Linked DNA regions of Homo sapiens. The protein of the gene in region 1 purifies or fractionates together with the protein of each later gene. This does not show direct contact. Each region holds a gene or a part of one and is shown in the gene's direction. Other genes may lie near its edges. The genes, in order: USPL1, PGD and KRT4.

The links.
Region 2: the proteins of USPL1 (region 1) and PGD purify together in Homo sapiens (affinity purification with mass spectrometry; one large-scale study listed by BioGRID and IntAct). This does not show direct contact.
Region 3: the proteins of USPL1 (region 1) and KRT4 purify together in Homo sapiens (affinity purification with mass spectrometry; one large-scale study listed by BioGRID and IntAct). This does not show direct contact.

The regions. Positions count from the first base shown.
Region 1 is NC_000013.11:30,624,377-30,628,033, forward strand, and holds part of USPL1 (SUMO-specific isopeptidase USPL1), read left to right. Parts: intron 1-3,657. UniProt on the Homo sapiens protein: SUMO-specific isopeptidase involved in protein desumoylation. Specifically binds SUMO proteins with a higher affinity for SUMO2 and SUMO3 which it cleaves more efficiently. Also able to process full-length SUMO proteins to their mature forms.
Region 2 is NC_000001.11:10,408,964-10,412,620, forward strand, and holds part of PGD (6-phosphogluconate dehydrogenase, decarboxylating), read left to right. Parts: intron 1-2,454; coding exon 2,455-2,589; intron 2,590-3,657. UniProt on the Homo sapiens protein: Catalyzes the oxidative decarboxylation of 6-phosphogluconate to ribulose 5-phosphate and CO(2), with concomitant reduction of NADP to NADPH.
Region 3 is NC_000012.12:52,808,577-52,811,267, reverse strand, and holds part of KRT4 (keratin, type II cytoskeletal 4), read left to right. Parts: intron 1-451; coding exon 452-512; intron 513-1,789; coding exon 1,790-1,885; intron 1,886-2,417; coding exon 2,418-2,582; intron 2,583-2,691.

The DNA.
Region 1 (3,657 bases):
GGCTGAGGCAGGAGGATTGCTTGATCCCAGGAATTGGAGACCAGCCCATGCAACATAGTGTGGCCTTGTCTCTACAAAAAAAAAAATTTAAATTAGCTGGGCATGGTGGTGTGAGTCTGTAGCCCCAGCTACCCGGGAGGGGGACTACGGGTGCACGGCACCATGCCCAGGAGGTCCAGGCTGCAGTGAGCTGTGATTGTGCCACTGCATTCCAGTCAGGATGACAGAGTGTGAGACCCTGTCTCTATTAAAAGAAAAAAAAAAGACAAATAGATCCAGGAAAGGCTATGAAGAGAGAGCTTTCATGCATAAATACCAAAATATCTCAAAAGACTCTGCAAAAACCACACCCTTGCACAAAGGCCATCATGAAATACTTCTGAAATACACAGAAAATACATCATGAAATAAATACACAGAAAATACTTCTGCAAGGACATCTGCCCAGCAACTGCCTGGTCCATCTGTGGACGGGTGTCATCCTTGTTATTGATCCTTGTAGCCAAGGGTAATTATCTCAAAACAAGTATGTGATCCTCCTTATTTTCCTTTAAAAACCTTTTGTCTTCCCTTACCTCCCTGAACACACACAGTTTACTATGGCATGTGTATTCCCATTGGAATACTTTATTCCTGAATAAATGTCACTTTCTTTTTAGAAGCTTCTCTTTTCTTTTTATTTAGATTGATAAGTAGAAAGGAAAAAAAGCTTTTTTCCCTTTGGACTAGTTGAAGGCAGTTGCAGTATTCTGGGGGAGAGGGTGGTGGCAGAGGTGTTGAGGCATGGTTGGAGTTTATTTATACTTTGAAGGTAAAGCCAACAGGATTTGCTGAAAGATTGGGATATGGGGTTGGAAAGAGGAATCAAGGATAGTTCCAAGATTTTTGGCTTGAAAAATTAGAAGAATGGAATCGTGAATTACTGAGCTGGGAAGACTTGGAAGAGCAAGGTTTTGGGGAGAAGATCAGGACTGTAAGAATAGAGAAGTCCTTGTCCCCAGGAGTTAGGTTTTTGGCTATTAAAGTTAGATGTACTACATAGATTTTTAGTTGGTTTTTTGTTTTTTGTTTTTTTTTTTTTTTTTTTTGAGACGGAGTCTCGCTCTGTCACGAGGCTGGAGTGCAGTGGTGCGATCTCGGCTCACCGCAACCTCCGACTCCCTGGTTCAAGGGATTCTCCTGCCTCAGCCTCCTCAGTAGGTGAGATTACAGGCATGTGCCACCCAGCCCAGCTAATTTTTGTATTTTTAGTAGAGACGGGGTTTCACTATGGCCAGGATGGGCTTGATTTCCTGACCTCAGGTGATCCACCCACCTCGGCCTCCCAAAATGCTGGGGTTACAGGTGTGAGCCACCACGCCCAGCCCGGAGTTTTGGTTTTTGAAGCATTCTTTTTCAAGTGATAAAGCAAAAAATATATAATCAAGAATTTTAAGTATATACTTTGGAAATGTTAAAAAGGAACATGAGTAATTTATTATTATTTTTTTAATTTCTAGTCAGCAATGAGAGCCCAGTGTACTTTATGAAGTAGATTGGTTTACACCAGGAGTGAGCAGACATTTTGTATGATGCACAAACAAGGAATGATTTTTTTGTTTTTTAAATGGTTAGGAAAATATCAAAATAAAAAATGCCAGAAAAAATCAAAAGAAGGGCCAGGTGCAGTGTTTCACACCTGTAATCCCAGCACTTTGGGAGGCCAAGGTGGGTGGATTCTCTTGAGGTCAGGAGTTCGAGACCAGCCTGGCCAACATGGTGAAAACCTGTCTCTACTAAAAATACAAAATAGCCGGGTGTGGTGGCATATGCCTGTAATCCCAGCTACTTGGGAGGCTGAGGCAGGAGAGTCGCTTGAAGCCAGTGGCAGAAGTTGCAGTGAGCCAAGATTTGAGCCACTGCACTCCAGCCTGGGCGACAGAGGAGACTCTATCTCAAAATAAATAAATAAATAAATAAATAAATAAATAAATCAAAAGAAGAATACCCTTTCATAATATGTGAAAATTAAATGAAATTCAAATTTCAGTGTTCATAAATAAAGTTTTACCGGAACATAGCCATGCTCAATCATTTATGTATTGTTCATGGCTTCTTTTGCATACAACAACAGAGTTGGGTAGTTGTGACAGACTATGTAGCTCATAAAATCTAAATATTTATTATCTAGCCCTTTATCAGTAAACTTTGCTGATCCCTGTATAAGTCCTCTGAATCAAATTATTTCCAAAGAGTTCCGTTATAAAATTTGGAGTTTACTCTGCTGTAAATTGCAAAGAACCATTTGGAAAACCTCTTTTAGTCAGGTATTTACATTAAAATGTTCCTTGATTTGTAAACACTAATATTCAAGACTGGTCCAAAATTATACCAAATTGAAACTCTCAAGTGTTTTTAAACAGTAGGAAGTTTTAACTTTTTTTTTTTCGTGGAGTAGTCTATCATTCAGCGTTTACTTTGGAACATTTAATTAGTCTTTTTTAAAAACCCATGAAATTTATAATAAAAATTTTAAATCATTAATGTTGAGTAATCAAAGAAAACTTTTTTTGTTTTCTCCATTTGTAAAATGAGTACATTATTATTATAATTTGTCTTTGGCCATACCTTGTTGATAATTACTTATACAAGTATAAGAAGACATGGTATGTTTTCCTTTTTCCTATTTCACAAGAATAAGTACAGGAATTTACTTAAGCTGCTCCAAAACTCAGTGAAAGAGACAGGATTAGGTTTTTTTCAGCATTGGATTTTAAATGATACTAGATGGTTGCGCTGGGCTAAAATACTAATGCTTTGTGTATATTTTTATGACTTTTTTGAAGACAGCTTAAAAGCTTTATTCTAGTTATAAAAATGATACATGTTCACTGTAAATAGAAACAAGTCAGGTATACAGAGATACAAATATTTAGAACATGTGGAAAGAGGCAACAAAATTTTATAAAAAGAAAAAAGATAAAAATCTGAAATCATTAATTTATAAGGGAAAAATCAGGGCAAGGACAAATTATATTACAGATTGGCCTATGGTGGGAGCACAGATTATATAGAGAAAAGTCAGTGAAGACACTTGCGAAGAGTGTGGGTGGAAATCACTAAGTTTTGCAGTCCCGGGGCCTCTTATGGTTTATTACTGTTTTGTTCTTTTTTTTTTTTTAATATGCATTCCTTTGGAACCAAGGGTTTATTATGTTTTGAATAAAGTAGAGGTGTAAGTAGGATGCATATACCATGATCTTGACTACTTGAGATTCACAAAGGGTTTTCGTCTCAGGATTTTTTTTTCTCTTAAAAAAATTTGTATTAATTTTTAAATTGTAAAAAAATTCATCAACTTAACCATTTTTATGTATAGAGTTCAGGAGTATTAGGTATATTCACTTGTGCAGCAGATCTCTAGAACTTTTTTCATCTTGCAAAACTGAAACTCTGTACCCATTAAACAACCACTTCCCATTTTCCTCTCCCCCAGCTTCTGGCAACCATTCTAGTTTCTGTTTCTTTTCTTTTTTTTTCTTTTGAGATGGAGTCTCTGTCGCCCAGGCTGGAGTGTAGTGGCATGATCTCGGCTCGCTGCAACTTCTGCCTGCGGGTTCAAGCAGTTCTCCTCCCTCAGCCTCCTGAGTAGCTGGGACTACAGGGGTGCACCACCAT
Region 2 (3,657 bases), on another chromosome or scaffold:
GGATGGAAAAAAGCATTAGGCTCAGGAGACCTGAGTGGCAGTTCTGGCTTTCCATAAACTTAACTGTGACATCAGGCAAGCCACGTCCCTTCATGGACTTCAGTTTCCTTATCTGTAAGATATGGGGTTGGATTACATGATCTCCAAGCTCTCTTCAGCTCCTGATTCCCTTTAATTTTATATCAGCAATTTTAATGTGAATTTTATTATTCAATTTTATTTTATATGAAATCAATGCTGAGGTTGAAATAAGGACTCAGGCCTTTGAGGAATCCGGGAAGCCCTCCCTCCTAGGCCTGCCAGTGCTTGGTGGCTTTGGCCACAGCAGCTCACTTGTCCTTACCTTTTCACCAGTGGTTGGCCATTGAGCTCAGTCAGAATCTGCTTAGGGTAGAAAGAGGCTGGTGCTGGGACTGACGTAAAGAGCTGAGTAATCTTCTCATTAGTGTGAAGGATTGGAAAGGGACCTCTGTTCCCTGACAGTAGATTACTGCGGTAAAAGGCCGGGTGTAGTGGCTCGTGCTTATAATCCAGTATTTTGGGAGGATCCCTTGAGCCCACGAGTTCAAGGCTGCAGTGAGCAGTGATCATACTACTGCACTCTGGCCTGGGTAACAGAGAGAGACCCTGTCTCTTAAACAGAAAAAAACAAAAAGATCACTGCAATAAAAGTGAGTGGTAGCAACTTTTTTTTTTTTTTTTTTTTTTTTTTGAGACAGTCTTGCTTTATCGTCCAGGCTGGAGTGCAGTGGCATAATCTCAGCTCACTGCAACTTCCGCCTCCTGGGTTCAAGCGATTCTCATGCCTCAGCCTCCATTGTAGCTGGGATTACAGGCATGTGCCACCATGCCTGGCTAATTTTTGTATTTTTGGTAGAGATGGGGTTTCACCATGTTGCCCAAGCTGGTCTTAAACTCCTGACTTCAAGTAATCGGCCCACCTTGGCCTCCCAAAGTGTTGGGATTATAGGCGTGAGCCACCGCACCCAGCCTGCAACTTTTTTTTAGATACACACACTTAGGACAAAGTCATGAAGAGAAGCACAGTCCTTGCCCCTACGTGTGTTGATCAAGCAGGCCCTCCTTAGTTCATGGCTGAAGTGGCAGGAAGGGTAAGGTGAAGTAAGATGTTAGCAGCCATGTTACTCTGTGGCCAGAGTGTCAAAATCAGAAGTCAGCAGGGGCAGCAATAGAAACATGGACAAGGCCAGGCGTGGTGGCTCATGCCTGGAATCCCAGCACTGTGAGAGGCTGAGGTGAGTGGATCACCTGAGGTCAGGAGTTTGAGACCAGCCTGGCCAACATGGTGAAACTCCATGTCTACAAAAATTAGCTGAGTGTGGCGGTGTGCTCCTGTAATCCCAGCTCATCAGGAGGCTGAGGCGTTAGAATTGCTTGAACCCAGGAGGCAGGTGTTGTGCTGAGCCAAGATCACACCGCTGCACTCCAGCCTGGGCGACAGAGCGAGACTCCGTTTCAAAAAAAAAAAAGAAACACGGACAATGGAGTCCTGATGTGAGCGTCAGTTATACAACTGACGGTCCAGGTGGTGACAGCCAGGAGAGAGACTGCCCAGGTCATCCAAACACCTGGCCTCCTGGGCAGGTGTGTCCCTGTCATGGAGCTGGGTGTAGATGACTGAGAGTTTGATGCCATGAACTGTTTGGCTCTCGTCACTCCCTTTGTTCCAGTTCTTGACAACTAAATAATTTTCGGATAATCTGGCTTCCCAGTTGCTTGTCTATAGGGCCAGAATGTGTTGACCGGACTAACATTTGTAACCACGAAGATCCATAGTTAAGGTTTTCATCCTACATTCATTAACGGGTATTCTGATTTTATACATCTTGCCAGCTTATAAATAAAGATCTGGTCTTTATTTATAAATATAAATATAAATATAAATATAATGATGGGGCCTTGGAGGGACTCCTTTCTGGGCTTACAAGGTTGAGACCTTGGATCTAGGGTCATTTTACTTTTCAGTAGCCATTAGGAACAACTACAATACATTTATATTTTGAAAAAAAACAAGTGATTTAATTGGCCAATATATTTTAACCTCTAGTTGCTAGAAAAGTGGTAACTTTGGGAAAAAGAGGACTTTTTTTCTTGTGGGTGGGGGCTGGGAAGGTGGGGAGTTGCTTTGAATGATGAGAAAGAGTAGAAAATACAGGCTAGAGAGCCATAAGTATTGAAAGTGAATTCAGGGACTTTGAGAAACCTTGAGAAGAATGAGTCTAGAATTAGTGTTAAATAATATTGTACTGGACTGAAGCTTGCTTTGAATTGCTATATGATTCTTGTATCAAAAATGCTGTACTCATTTTATACTTGTTATTTTTTGTGTGGAGAGGTAGCCTTGCCAGGGATGTTGGCATGAAAGCTGATGTGGACTTCTCTGATGTGTCGCCTGTTTCTCTGAAGGCCTCTTGGTGCTTGTTGTCCTGACAGGTGGGAGATGAGGGAGCAGGCCACTTCGTGAAGATGGTGCACAACGGGATAGAGTATGGGGACATGCAGCTGATCTGTGAGGCATACCACCTGATGAAAGACGTGCTGGGCATGGCGCAGGACGAGATGGCCCAGGTGAGGCCCCGGCACTGCCTCTGTGTCCGTTCTGCAGGGAGTGCTCACTTTGCCACAGACACCGAATCTTTTCTTCATTCCTATCCCCTTGGCCATTCGGGTGGCCTGCATGGACTCAGCCTAATTTGAGGGAAACTGTTAGTAATAGGCCTATACACTATGCTAGTCAGTCACTAAGCAGAAAGTCCCCACAGAGTCTGGGTGGTTATCATCACCACCATTTAGCGTAGCTTACCTGGTGTCAGGCACTGTGTCACTCCACATACCTGTCCCATTTACTCCCACAGTTGTCCCACATGGCAGATGCAGCAGAAGCTTTCTTTCCTGATCAAGTTGGGATTGGCTTTTTGATAGTTAATCTGAAAAGTCAGTCCAAGTAGGGAAGCTGAAGCATTTCCCCCAACATTTTATTATGACAATATTCAACCATGCAGCACAGAAGTTTGAGAGTTTTACAGTGAACACCTGGATACACACCTCCTCCTTTCTCCCATCCACAGGTTCCTGTACTTGCTTTAGCAATGTCTGTCCATCCCCCACCAATTTCATCTTATTTTTTGGATACATTCAAAGTAAACTGCAGGTATCCATACTTTTGTTTTCCCTAAATACTTTAGATGAATGTATCTTTATCATGAGGTAAACATAGATTTTAACTGAAAACATAGGAAAGGACTTTCATTCACCCGCCATTTTTTGGAGGGCCAAGGCCTTCTCGTTAAGTATGGTTTGCTGATGCGCTTTCTAGTCGTGTCTTACCATCTAGAATTTCTAGTTTCAGTTATTTCCAATGGGATGTGATTTACAGACTCTAGCAAGGCATACAGTATAGCTTTCCAGATTTTTTGTTGTTTTCCTCCTAGTTTTTTATTCATGTCATCCTCACTTACTTTGACTATTGTTTGTTTCACTGGATTGCTGTTAATTGTTCTTTCTAAAACATTACCTTAGTTTTCTTTCACAGAAACAGTGCTATTCTTTTTGTGTTCATTTTTTATTGGTATATATAATACTTAACGTGTTCACTCAGCAAACACACGAGTGCTTTACTATATGCCAAGCATGATT
Region 3 (2,691 bases), on another chromosome or scaffold:
GAACACTGAATACACAGCACCTCTCATTAAACTCACTATGGGATAGGACTGACAAAATAAATACCAACCCTGTCTCTCAATTCACTCACCCACCAAACAAAGGGAAATGGAGTGTGCTGATGACATTGCTGAGAATTTAATCTGCCAAAATGGCCAAAAGGACAGCCCTTTCAGGGACATTAAATCAACTACATCATTGCTGGGTTTTCTATCGAAAACAGTCTCTTTAAAGTTTGGTTTTCATGTATCTGAATAAACCCTGGCCTAAACGGGTACTTCCTATATTCAATGAATATAGGTTAAATGAATATCTGTATGAATATGGGAAATGCAACTAATTACGTGGATATTTCCAAATTTGTTTGGAAATGCTTGAAAACAAGCAGCAGAGATCTGAGAAACACCAGCTCACTGTGGGTTTTTGTCTTTTTCTCCCCGTGCCCACCCCCAGGTATGAAGAGGAGATCAACAAACGCACAGCAGCCGAGAATGACTTTGTGGTCCTAAAGAAGGTAAGAGACGAAGGATGGTAGGGAGTGCCTTCAGGGTGCCCCTTCCCTTGGGGAGTGGTCTTTGGCTGAAGTCATGGGTTTGGTCCATCTCTGCCTCATCCCTGCTTCACTTGGAACTATCTAGATCTATATAGTCAAGGAAAGTGGGTAACCAAACCAGGTTCTAAGAAATTAAGGTTGGGAGGAAAGCCTATTTGCTTTTTTTTTTGAGATGGAGCTTCACTCTTTTTGCCCAGGCTGCAGTGCAATGGCGCGATCTTGGGTCACTGCAAGCTCCACCTACTGGGTTCAAGCGATTCTCCTGCCTCAGCCTCCCGAGTAGCTGGGATTACAGGCATGCACCACCACGCCTGGCTAATTTTGTATTTTTAGTAGAGACAGGGTTTTTCCATGTTGGTCAGGCTGGTCTCAAACTCCTGACCTCAGGTCATCCGCCTGCCTCAGCCTCCCAAAGTGCTGGGGTTACAGTTGTGAGCCACCGCACCCAGCTGATTTTTATTTTTATAAATTCATGGGGTACAAGTGTAATTTTGTTACGTGGATAGTTTGTGTTGTGGTGAAGTCAGGGCTTTTAGAGTATCCATTGCTGGGATAACATACATTATATCCAATAAGTAATTTCTCATTATCCAGCCCCTCCCAGCCCTCCCTTTTTCAAGTCTCCATTGTCTATCATTCCATGCTCTATGTCCACATGTACACATGATTTAGCTCCCACTTATAAGTGAGGACATGTGTTATTTGTCTTTCTGTGCCTGAGTTGTTTCACTTAAGATAATGGCCTCCAGTTCCATCCACATTGCTGCAAAAAGACATAATTTCATTCTCTTTTTATGGCTGAGTAGTATTCTATTGTGTATATGTATCATATTTTCTTTATCCAATCATCTGTTGATGGACACTTAGGTTGATTTGGTATCTTTGCTATTGTGAATTGTGCTGCGATAAACATGAGTGCAGGTATCCTTTTGTTACAATGATTTCTTTTCCTTTGAGTGGAATTCCAGCACTGGGATTGCTGGATCCAATGGTAGTTCTATTTTTAGTTCTTTGAGAGATCTCCATACTGTTAGAATAGCCTATTTGGATAATCAACTTCCATGTCTTCAGGTGGCTCTAGGGAAGAATATATAAAATAATTGGTCTCCCACCAGCTCCCCTGCTGCTGAGTAGTCTTTCCTAAATGCTGCTGAGAACACCTGTCGGTGTCACTTAGTAACCCGTCCTCCTACTGGCATTCCTGCTCCTCATCTCTTATCCTCCTTACTCCTCTGCAGGACGTGGATGCTGCCTACCTGAACAAGGTGGAGTTGGAGGCCAAGGTGGACAGTCTTAATGACGAGATCAACTTCCTGAAGGTCCTCTATGATGCGGTGAGGGCTCCATCCTCCCCTCCATCCAGGGAAAGGGAATCCCCCATCTGTGACGCTGCTGGTTGGGATTCACAGTTTTTTGAAAGGACTCCAGCTCCCTTATTTTAGGGCAGTGGGTTCTCATCAAGGTCATGCATAGAAAGGTTTGAAGTGGGAAATTCAACTGGGAGATTCTTAGAACCAGATGTGGTCTTGGTCTTAGACGGGGTGATTAGATCTAAAGAGTGCTTGGAATAGAATTCATTGCTGTCTAGCATTTTTTTTCTGGTGAAATGGATCCATTCCCTTCCCTTCCATTCCAACACACCGGCACTCACTGCATTAGAGTGGCTTATGGTTCCTGGGGACCAGTAAAGACTAGAAGCATTGCTCTTCCATCCTGAACTGTCACAACCACTTGATTTCTCCTTAGAACTTTACCTGTCTCTCCCCTTCCTACACATTGTGAATGCCAGCTCTGCTCCTACTTGAGCCTGTATCAGGTCAGTGAAGGCTTTCCTGGGGGGGCTGATGTGAGACATTTGCCCTGCAGGAGCTGTCCCAGATGCAGACCCATGTCAGCGACACGTCCGTGGTCCTTTCCATGGACAACAACCGCAACCTGGACCTGGACAGCATTATTGCCGAGGTCCGTGCCCAGTACGAGGAGATTGCCCAGAGGAGCAAGGCTGAGGCTGAAGCCCTGTACCAGACCAAGGTGGGTGGTATGGATCTCTCAGGAGATGGGGCTGGCTCTGGGGCTCTGCTTTTGATGTCTGTGAACAGGTGATCATTAGCTCAAGCCCAATAGAAGTCAGATATGAACA